3 separate regions of the Homo sapiens genome follow, and regions 1 and 3 are each linked to region 2. Evidence: fine-mapped expression QTL. A gene starts in region 2. Each other region holds a variant in brackets. All regions are shown on one strand. Distances are between the middles of the regions.

Region 1 (2,761 bases), 55 kb after region 2:
ACCCAGCCAGGACCTGTACTTCGGCTCCTTCTGCCCGGGAGGCTCTATCAAGCAGATCCAGGTGAAGCAGAACATCTCGGTGACCCTTCGCACCTTTGCCCCCAGCTTCCAACAAGAGGCCTCCAGGCAGGGTCTGACGGTGTCCTTTATACCTTATTTCAAAGGTAAGGGGGGTCTCCCCTATCTCCATGCCCCTTTAGTTTAAGCGTTTATTTGATTTTAGTTTTGTGATCACCTTAATTAAGTTGCCAGTTTGGAAAGAAGGGATAGCTCAATATGCTGGTCCTTGCACAAGAAATTTGAAAGATAGTGAGTCCTAATCCTGACTTTACCATTAACCTAGCATGGAAAATTCCTGAGATTAGAAATAAAAAATGTTTCTGACAGTGAGAGGCGATGGTTGGTAGGCAGCAAAAACATTATCAGGTTTGAGTCTTTTTTGGAAGCAGGCAGGACGTAAATGAGAAATAGCCAGATATTCCCCAGTCCCGGATTTTTAAGGTAGTGACATAAAAATCCTTAGGCAGACATTTTTATGACTCTGCTTTTACAATTCAGAATGCAGTGCCGAGAGCACAGAGGGAGGAGCGTTGGGAGGGAGACGAGTCTCTGGAGCCAGAGTCCAGCAGCACGGCTGGGCAGACCCGACCCTCCTGGGAGGCTGGCATGTGGTCTCCATGTTCTGAGGCAGTAAATGAGGTCTAAATGGCTCACAACGTGACTTCTACATGGTTGACTTTAAAAGTCACAGTCACCATTACAAGTTGCTCCAAGAACATTAAGTTAGAGGCCATTTTAAAATTGACCAAGACCTTTGATGTTTATTTCCTACTCTTATTCTCTGAGGTGTGAGTGGGAGGGAGAAGAATCTTTGGTCATAAGATTAAGGTGGGTCCAGGCTGCCTGATATCTCCAAGGTTACCAGAGAAACTCCTTCTGAGGAGTCTTTGCAAATAAGACACATTCTCATCAGTGTGGAATGTGTGGGTTTTATCTCTCCTGAAGGTAAGGAAGGGATTAGTTGACGTGTCAGGAGCTCTTTCAGCTTTGCAGTTCCGGAACTCTTCCCAGAACCTGAAGATATTTTAATCTCTGAAACAGAAATCAGGCTATACCAGCCCCACCCCGGAGAGGGCAATAGATGAATATAGTAGCTAC[G/A]TTGAGAGCATTTCTGAAGGGAAGCTGAGATAACCACCAGTTTGGGAAACTTGCCTGGTTTTTATTTGCCTGTTTGTTTTGTTTTTTTTCAAAAGTCCTGAGTACCTACTCTGACTGAGACTGATCCAGCACTGACCAATACAGTGGTGCTAGCCACATAGCAATGATTTGAATTTAAATTAATATGAGGCTGGGCACAGTGGCTCATGCCTATAATCCCGGCTCTTTGGGAGGCCAAGGCAGGCAGATCACTTGAGCTCAGGAGTTCAAGAGCAGCCTGGCCAACACGGTGAAACCCCATCTCTACTAAAAATACAAAAAATTAGCCGGTCATGGTGGCTCATGCCTGTAGTCCTAGCTACTCGGGAGGCTGAGGCTGGAGAATTGCTTGAACCTGAGAGGTGGAGGTTGCAGTTTGCAGTGAGCCGAGATCGTGCCACTGCACTCTAGCCTGGGCAACAGAGTGAGACTCCCTCTCAAAAATAACTAATAATAATAAATTAACATGAAACAAATTTAAAATGCAGTTCTTTGGTCATGCTGGGCACATTTCAAGGCTCAGCAGACATATAGCTGGTGGCTACCCTATCAGATGGTGCAGATCTAGAAGATTTCCATCATCGCAGAAAGTTCGGTTAGACAGCGCTGGTCTGGACAGTTGGACTTCGTCTCCTCCACCACTCCCTTTCCTCTCCATGTTGACTGAATGAAACATCTGTCTGGATCTCCCTCCCTTTCCTGCAGAGGAAGGCGTTTTCACGGTGACCCCTGACACAAAAAGCAAGGTCTACCTGAGGACCCCCAACTGGGACCGGGGCCTGCCATCCCTCACCTCTGTGTCCTGGAACATCAGCGTGCCCAGAGACCAGGTGGCCTGCCTGACTTTCTTTAAGGAGCGGAGCGGCGTGGTCTGCCAGACAGGGCGCGCATTCATGATCATCCAGGAGCAGCGGACCCGGGCTGAGGAGATCTTCAGCCTGGACGAGGATGTGCTCCCCAAGCCAAGCTTCCACCATCACAGCTTCTGGGTCAACATCTCTAACTGCAGCCCCACGAGCGGCAAGCAGCTAGACCTGCTCTTCTCGGTGACACTTACCCCAAGGACTGTGGGTAAGGGCCTTCAGGGTCTTTGGGGACAGTGATGAACAAAAAATTGTCAGCTGGAGGATAGAGAGCAAGCCTGGAGACAAGTCAGAATCACAGATTGAGTCCTGACTGTCCATGTATCAGTCAGCTATTGCATCAATAGTGCTGAGTAACAAACCATCCCAGAACATAGTGGCTTAGTAGCAGCCATCTATTATTGCTCCAACGTTGGCTGGGCAATTCTGGTCTGAGCTGGACTTATCAGGGCTCAGTCATTCATGCACCTACTGGCAGCTGCAGGTTGGCTAGAGGACTTTGCTGATCTTAGCTTGGTGCTTTCAAAAAGCTGAGGCTCAGCCAAGATCATCTGAGACAACTGAGATTACTTGGCTTGACTCTACATGATCTCTTGTTCTCCAGCCTGGGCTGTTTTCATGGCAGAGGCAGAGAGATCCACAAGAGACTGGAGGAGGCATATAAGGTCTTTTGATACTTTTAGGTTAGGAACTCACACACC
Region 2 (2,761 bases):
GCCATTCTAGTACTGTTGTGGGTATTACTGTATGTGGGAAACAATGGTGTCATGGATGTTAGGAAAAGATGCTGGGATATATATGCCTGCTTAGAATCAGGAGAAAAGACAAATCTCCTTTCACCCTCCTGGTCAGCATAAATATTTTTAAAGATTGTTTAGATTTTTGTCAAGATTTCTTTCTCTTGATGAATTTGTCCTCGATTCAGTGGGGAGAACCAAGAGCCTCTCTTCGTTTCTCATCCTCTCCCTTCCCTCTAGTTCTCAGTTTTCCCATTTTTCTGCACAAGGACAGAAGTGGACTAGAAGATTACATCTAAGGTCCCGTTTAGCTCACGATACAGGCCCTCCCAGAGGTGGGGGTGTGGGCAGGGTCATGTTCCAAGTTCTGCCTCCCTCGATGGACTGTGGGCTCCCAGAGGGCAGAGCTAGCTCTATTCTCATGATTAAGGACATCGAGAAGGAAGGGGTGACGCTCCTAGGAGATGATTTCCCACCCCTGTCCACAAGGAGGATTGGGGCAGCCTGGAGAGGCTCAGTGCCCGCAAGAATTAAGCAGAAGTTGGGACTGGACTGTAAACTGATGCTGTCGCACATGCTTTGGTTCCTGTCCCAAGCCTCCCAGGTTGCTCCGGGTGACTCTGGCCCAGCTTCTGGCTATCCATGAACACAAGTAGTCCCAGGGAGTCATTCTGGCAGAACCCAGGTCTGCTAGCTAAGAACTCCTGAACCATCCGCAATCTCTGCCTGTGGCCTGGACTTGGTGTATGGCCGGCAGGGTGGAAGGAGAACCCACAGGGCCTCTGAAGACAGGCAGGTGGCACACCTGCGGCTGGGAGGATTTGGAAAAGGAGTCCAGCGCCATTCATTTTTCATTCATTTTCCAGCCCAACGTTTGACCTGAATGCTTCACGCTCACACTGCACACACTACTCCATTTATAATACAACTCGAGAAGGGCACATACTACTCCATCCACAGCTCAGTGAAGGGATGCATACTACTCTACTCACAATTCAACGAAGTGGTGCATCTGCCTCTAATTTACTAGCTACCCTGGGGACCTTGGACACGTTGCGTGTCTGGAAATACTGCAGGTGATGTGTGTGGAGTAGGCTGCAGGCTCACCGTCCTGCAAATACTAGCTGTACCACCACCGGCTTTAAAGTCCAACAGACCTCTGGCCCAAGTCAAGTAGCAGAGGATCCAGGGCTTGGGTGGCCCACAAATAGGATTCTTCTCCAAAACGAGGCGCATAATGGCCTTTGTCTCCTCGACAGAAAAGGGAAGGTAGACTGGCTTCCTCTATGGGCGACCTTCGCGACTCTGGAGAAAAAGACCTCATCATTCTCAGACTTGGGAAGGAAGACTAAGCCCGGAAAGGTGGGGACAAGTCCGCTCCAACGCCGCAATGGGGAGTAGTAGGGACCCAGCAACCCGGTGCCGGGAGCCCTGCACCCTGGGAGGGAGAGGCGGTCGCTGAGGCAGGAAGAGGAGGAGGAGAGAGAGGAGGGACGCACCGGGTCAGCTCGCGATCCTGCTGCGCAGGGCGGGGCTCGGGCCGGTCCGCCCGCGCGCAGGTGAGTGAGCCAGGGCGGAGCGCAGCTGCGCCGGGCTTGGGCGCCTGGGGCCGCCGCTCCCCACCGTCGTTTTCCCCACCGAGGCCGAGGCGTCCCGGAGTCATGGCCGGCCTGAACTGCGGGGTCTCTATCGCACTGCTAGGGGTTCTGCTGCTGGGTGCGGCGCGCCTGCCGCGCGGGGCAGGTGAGTGCCGGGCTTTGGAGGCGGATGGCGTGGAGTGGTGAGCTAGCCAGCCAGCGGACGCCCGGCGGAGATGCGGCCGAGGGACGCAGGGTGCGGAGGGTGCGGAGGGTGCGGAGAGAGGGCGGGGACGGCGTAGTCAAAATGCGCGGGTGGCTCCGGGACCCCCGGACTGTTCGGTTCCTGCGCGCGCCGCGTCGGGCGCGTGGGCCTTGCCCTCCTGGAGTCAACCTTGCCCTCGGCACGTGAGAGTGTCCCCGATCGGGGAGCCTCCCGGTCCGGGAGGATGAGCCCGGTGCTGGCCGAGAAGGCGGGAAAAGGAGCTCCCGGTAGCCGATCCCAGGCGACATGTCCAAGGTGGCGCGCCGTGCGCCCCAGGGTCTTTGCCGGGATTCTTGAAAGCACCCAGGCAGGGTGTGGGAAGAGATCTTTCCTCTCCAGGCTCGCCCTCTACCTCCTCGCCTGGTCCAGAGAGAAGGTGCAAAAAAAGTGCTTTCACGTCCGCATTTCCCACTAGATCCCCTTTTTCCCGTCCGCACGCTGCATTCCCCCTCTCCTAAAGTTGAAGAGCGTTGGTGCAAAAATGAAAGCGCCCGGATTTCTTTTAGGGGGTCCCAGAGAAAGCCGCCAGGCATCTGCGCCACCGCAGAGACTGGACATTCCCGCGCCCCTCGCACTTTTTGGCAGTGGACTTTGAGGGCAGGAGGCTGTTGTTCCGGGGATATGTGTGAATTTCGAGTTGTTTCGGTTGGGGGAAGGGACCAACACGTCCCAGTGACCTGTGCCAGCCAGGAAATGCCCTGTGGGCCCTGGATGTATTAGAACGTAGTAAATAACCTGGTTTCTTCATGTAAGAACTTGATGTGAGGCTAGTACAGGTTTCGCGAGATTAGTACAGGTTTTGTGTTTTTTAAATAGAGCTCTCCAGGAAGCCATGTGGGTTTGATTCCCCTTGCTGCATCTAGGGTGGATTTGTGTTTGGCAGGTGTAAATTAGATAA
Region 3 (2,761 bases), 79 kb after region 2:
CTCAATTTTAACCTGTTAAAAATGAAACTCATGATTTCCCTGCAAAACACTTCTTCTAGTACTCTTTCTCAGTGAATGGCACTGCCAGTCATCCTTGACAATTTCACTTGATGAAAACAAATAGGCATTTGTTTTTCTTTCTATAGAATAAAATAGCTCACTTTCTTTTCTTCCTAGGAAAAGGTTGAAAATGAGGAAAGTAATTTTGGTGATGACTCTAAGTTGAAATAAAATCTGTCCAAAAAAACAAACAAACAAACAAACAAACAAAAACCCCACATCATCTGGTAATTTAGGTTTCCTACATAGAGGGAGCTCAATAAAGTTAGTTCCCTTCCCTCTAGTTAAGAGTTTTTCCAAAACATAACAGTAATTTATTTTCCTCTCTCCTTCTTCTAACCCCTTTATGTACATTTTCTTGTCTCTTCTTTCTACTTCATTTTTGCACACAATAGAGTATTAAATTGTTTCTGATTTTCTTCATTTCCTGTTTCTACTTTTTTCCTTATTTCCCTCATGGCCCACCTCTCTGTCACTGAATCGGAAGACGGTCCTTCAATCAACAAATATTTATCGAGCACTCTGGGATACAGCGATGAGCAAGATAAGGGTCCTGCTCTGATGTGTTTTATATCTGGAGTGGGGAACAAACAATTACAAAATAAACAGCATGAGCTAATTAAGGAATTAAAACTGAATGATATAGAGAGTAACTGGGTGGCTATCTTTGAGTGGTCAGGAAAGGCCTTTCTGAGGAGGTTATATTTAAATCTTTTTTAAAATTATTTTAGTTTATTTTTCCATGAGTTATTGGGATATAGGTGGTATTTGGTTACATGAGTAAGTTCTTTAGTGGTGATTCGTGAGATTTTGGTGCACCCATCACCTGAGCAGTATACACTGCACCATATTTGTAGTCTTTTATCCCTTGCCTCCTTTCCACTCTTTCCTCCAAGTCCCCAATGTCCGTTGTATTGTTCTTATGTCATCTGAGGTTCTTTTAACCACAACTCCATGCCTGGAATTGACTGGAATCTCAGAGGGGGAAAGACCTTGGCACACCAGTCATTGGTCACCTCTACTCACCTCCTGCCCCAACTCCTACCATAGAGCTTAGTAGTCACGGCATCCCTGGGACCTCAGGAAAATGTAGAGAACACAAATTACAATAGGCTTCCAGAATCTTGGAAAAGTTCATTCACCCCATGA[A/T]GTCAGCAAGCAATGTGGATTCAAACTATGTGACACTTCATCCCAGGCAACAGGATGACCTGTGACAAAGGATGACATAGATTAAACCTTCATTCACAGTGTACAATCGGCCTGGTTTCCCCCATCTCTCATCACCATAACAACCAGCATTCTATAATAAGTATCCAGTCACCTAGAGACATGGGAAAACAATGCAGCAAATGTTGCTATGTTCCAATTATGAAGCCTTGGGTTCCGAGAGGTCTTATATGGCAATCTCATCCTCTGCTTTTGGGTTCTTGATCTCATGACATGTAACACCCACCCATGAGCACAGAAAAATTCCCAGGCAGGTTTTTAGATGCCCCTGACATCTTGAAAGAAAGATAGTATCCAGAGCCACATGTGACTTCCCGAATAATCAGCATCAAAAGAGAAAGAGAGTACCAAAAGCACTTAGGTCTGGCAACCTCCGTAGAAGGAGGATGAGGAATCCTAGTTCTAACTCTTGGGATTATATTAATGTCATAAACTGAACAGAAAGTACGCTATGGCTTTATTACCCTATAGAACATTAACCAGGTTTGTGTACAACTTAAAATGTTTATTTTGGTGTGCCTTTCCCAATTCTTCATATGCTCTCAGAACCAGCTTTTCATCTTACTGTTTCCCTCATTGCTTAATGAATTAAATAAGCTCTGTGGCTCATGTTCATCCTATTTTGTATGAGTCGTATTTTTGACTTTTTTTACTTACACTTTGACACAAGAACTGTCCACTGAACCTGCTGCCACAGTAATGAATGAGCCTTGTCCTCAGCCCCCTCACTCAAAACCCCGAGTCCCCCAAGAGGATGTCTTGTTGGCTGAGTCTAGCTCATAAGGTCCACCCCTGATTGTGCCAGGCTGGAAAGAGGGGTGATCCAACCCCTTTAGCACTCACAGTGGGAAACAGGTATAAATGCCCACAAATAAGCCAGAATGCCATTAGGAAATGAGAATAGTTACTAAGCAATCCAAAATGACAAATTTCAGTGTTCCTTCCTTAGGCCTCTAGTTTACAAAGGAGGGAGCTAAGGCTCAGTCCTAGTCCAGCTGTGTCACAGTCACCAGTTTGCTGCTCCTTGAGAAGCCACAGAGAACCAGTGGGGAGGGGACTGGCCTTTGAGGGCATCACTGCTGCTGGGTGGCTTGGCCCCTCATCTAAGAGTGTTCCAGAAGCAAACCCACAGAAACGGGCATCAGACAGTCATCCACCATTGTGTCAAGGAGTTTGTGGGGTGAGAGGCCCATGATGTTTGTGTACATGGGTATGTATTGTTGGGGCTCAGGAAATGATACCCCAAAGCATGGTGCTTTGGCATGCTGAGCACTTAGAATTAAAATAAATTGGAAAGCCTTAGAAGTTGCCCCAGAATCAAAGTCTATGATCTTCCCTTGTGTCTTCCCCCAAGCACAGGGAGGGCTCTCTCTGAAGTTCCCTCACCTAACTGAGGGAAGTTCTTCCAAAAGAGACACAATTGCCTTCAATTTCCTGTCTGAAATCTCATTAACCAGAGAAGATTAATCACTAG

The links. PIP is the estimated chance that this variant, and not a neighbour inherited with it, causes the effect.
Region 1: its variant is fine-mapped to the expression of CDCP1 in testis (GTEx, PIP above 0.99).
Region 3: its variant is fine-mapped to the expression of CDCP1 in testis (GTEx, PIP above 0.99).

What each region holds. Positions count from the first base shown.
Region 1 is chr3:45,090,680-45,093,440 of GRCh38, reverse strand. CDCP1 (CUB domain containing protein 1) reads left to right here. Exons shown (of 9, transcript NM_022842.5): 6 at 1-164; 7 at 1,903-2,268. Among named protein-coding and RNA genes, the nearest start is that of CDCP1, 54 kb to the left of the region's middle. The variant G/A (reference allele first, on the strand shown) is at 1,159.
Region 2 is chr3:45,145,209-45,147,969 of GRCh38, reverse strand. CDCP1 (CUB domain containing protein 1) reads left to right here and starts at 1,592. Exons shown (of 9, transcript NM_022842.5): 1 at 1,592-1,764. The coding sequence starts at 1,683.
Region 3 is chr3:45,066,669-45,069,429 of GRCh38, reverse strand. It overlaps LOC124906233 (a long non-coding RNA gene), which reads right to left and starts at 1,273. Exons shown (of 3, transcript XR_007095898.1): 1 at 1,087-1,273. The variant A/T (reference allele first, on the strand shown) is at 1,210.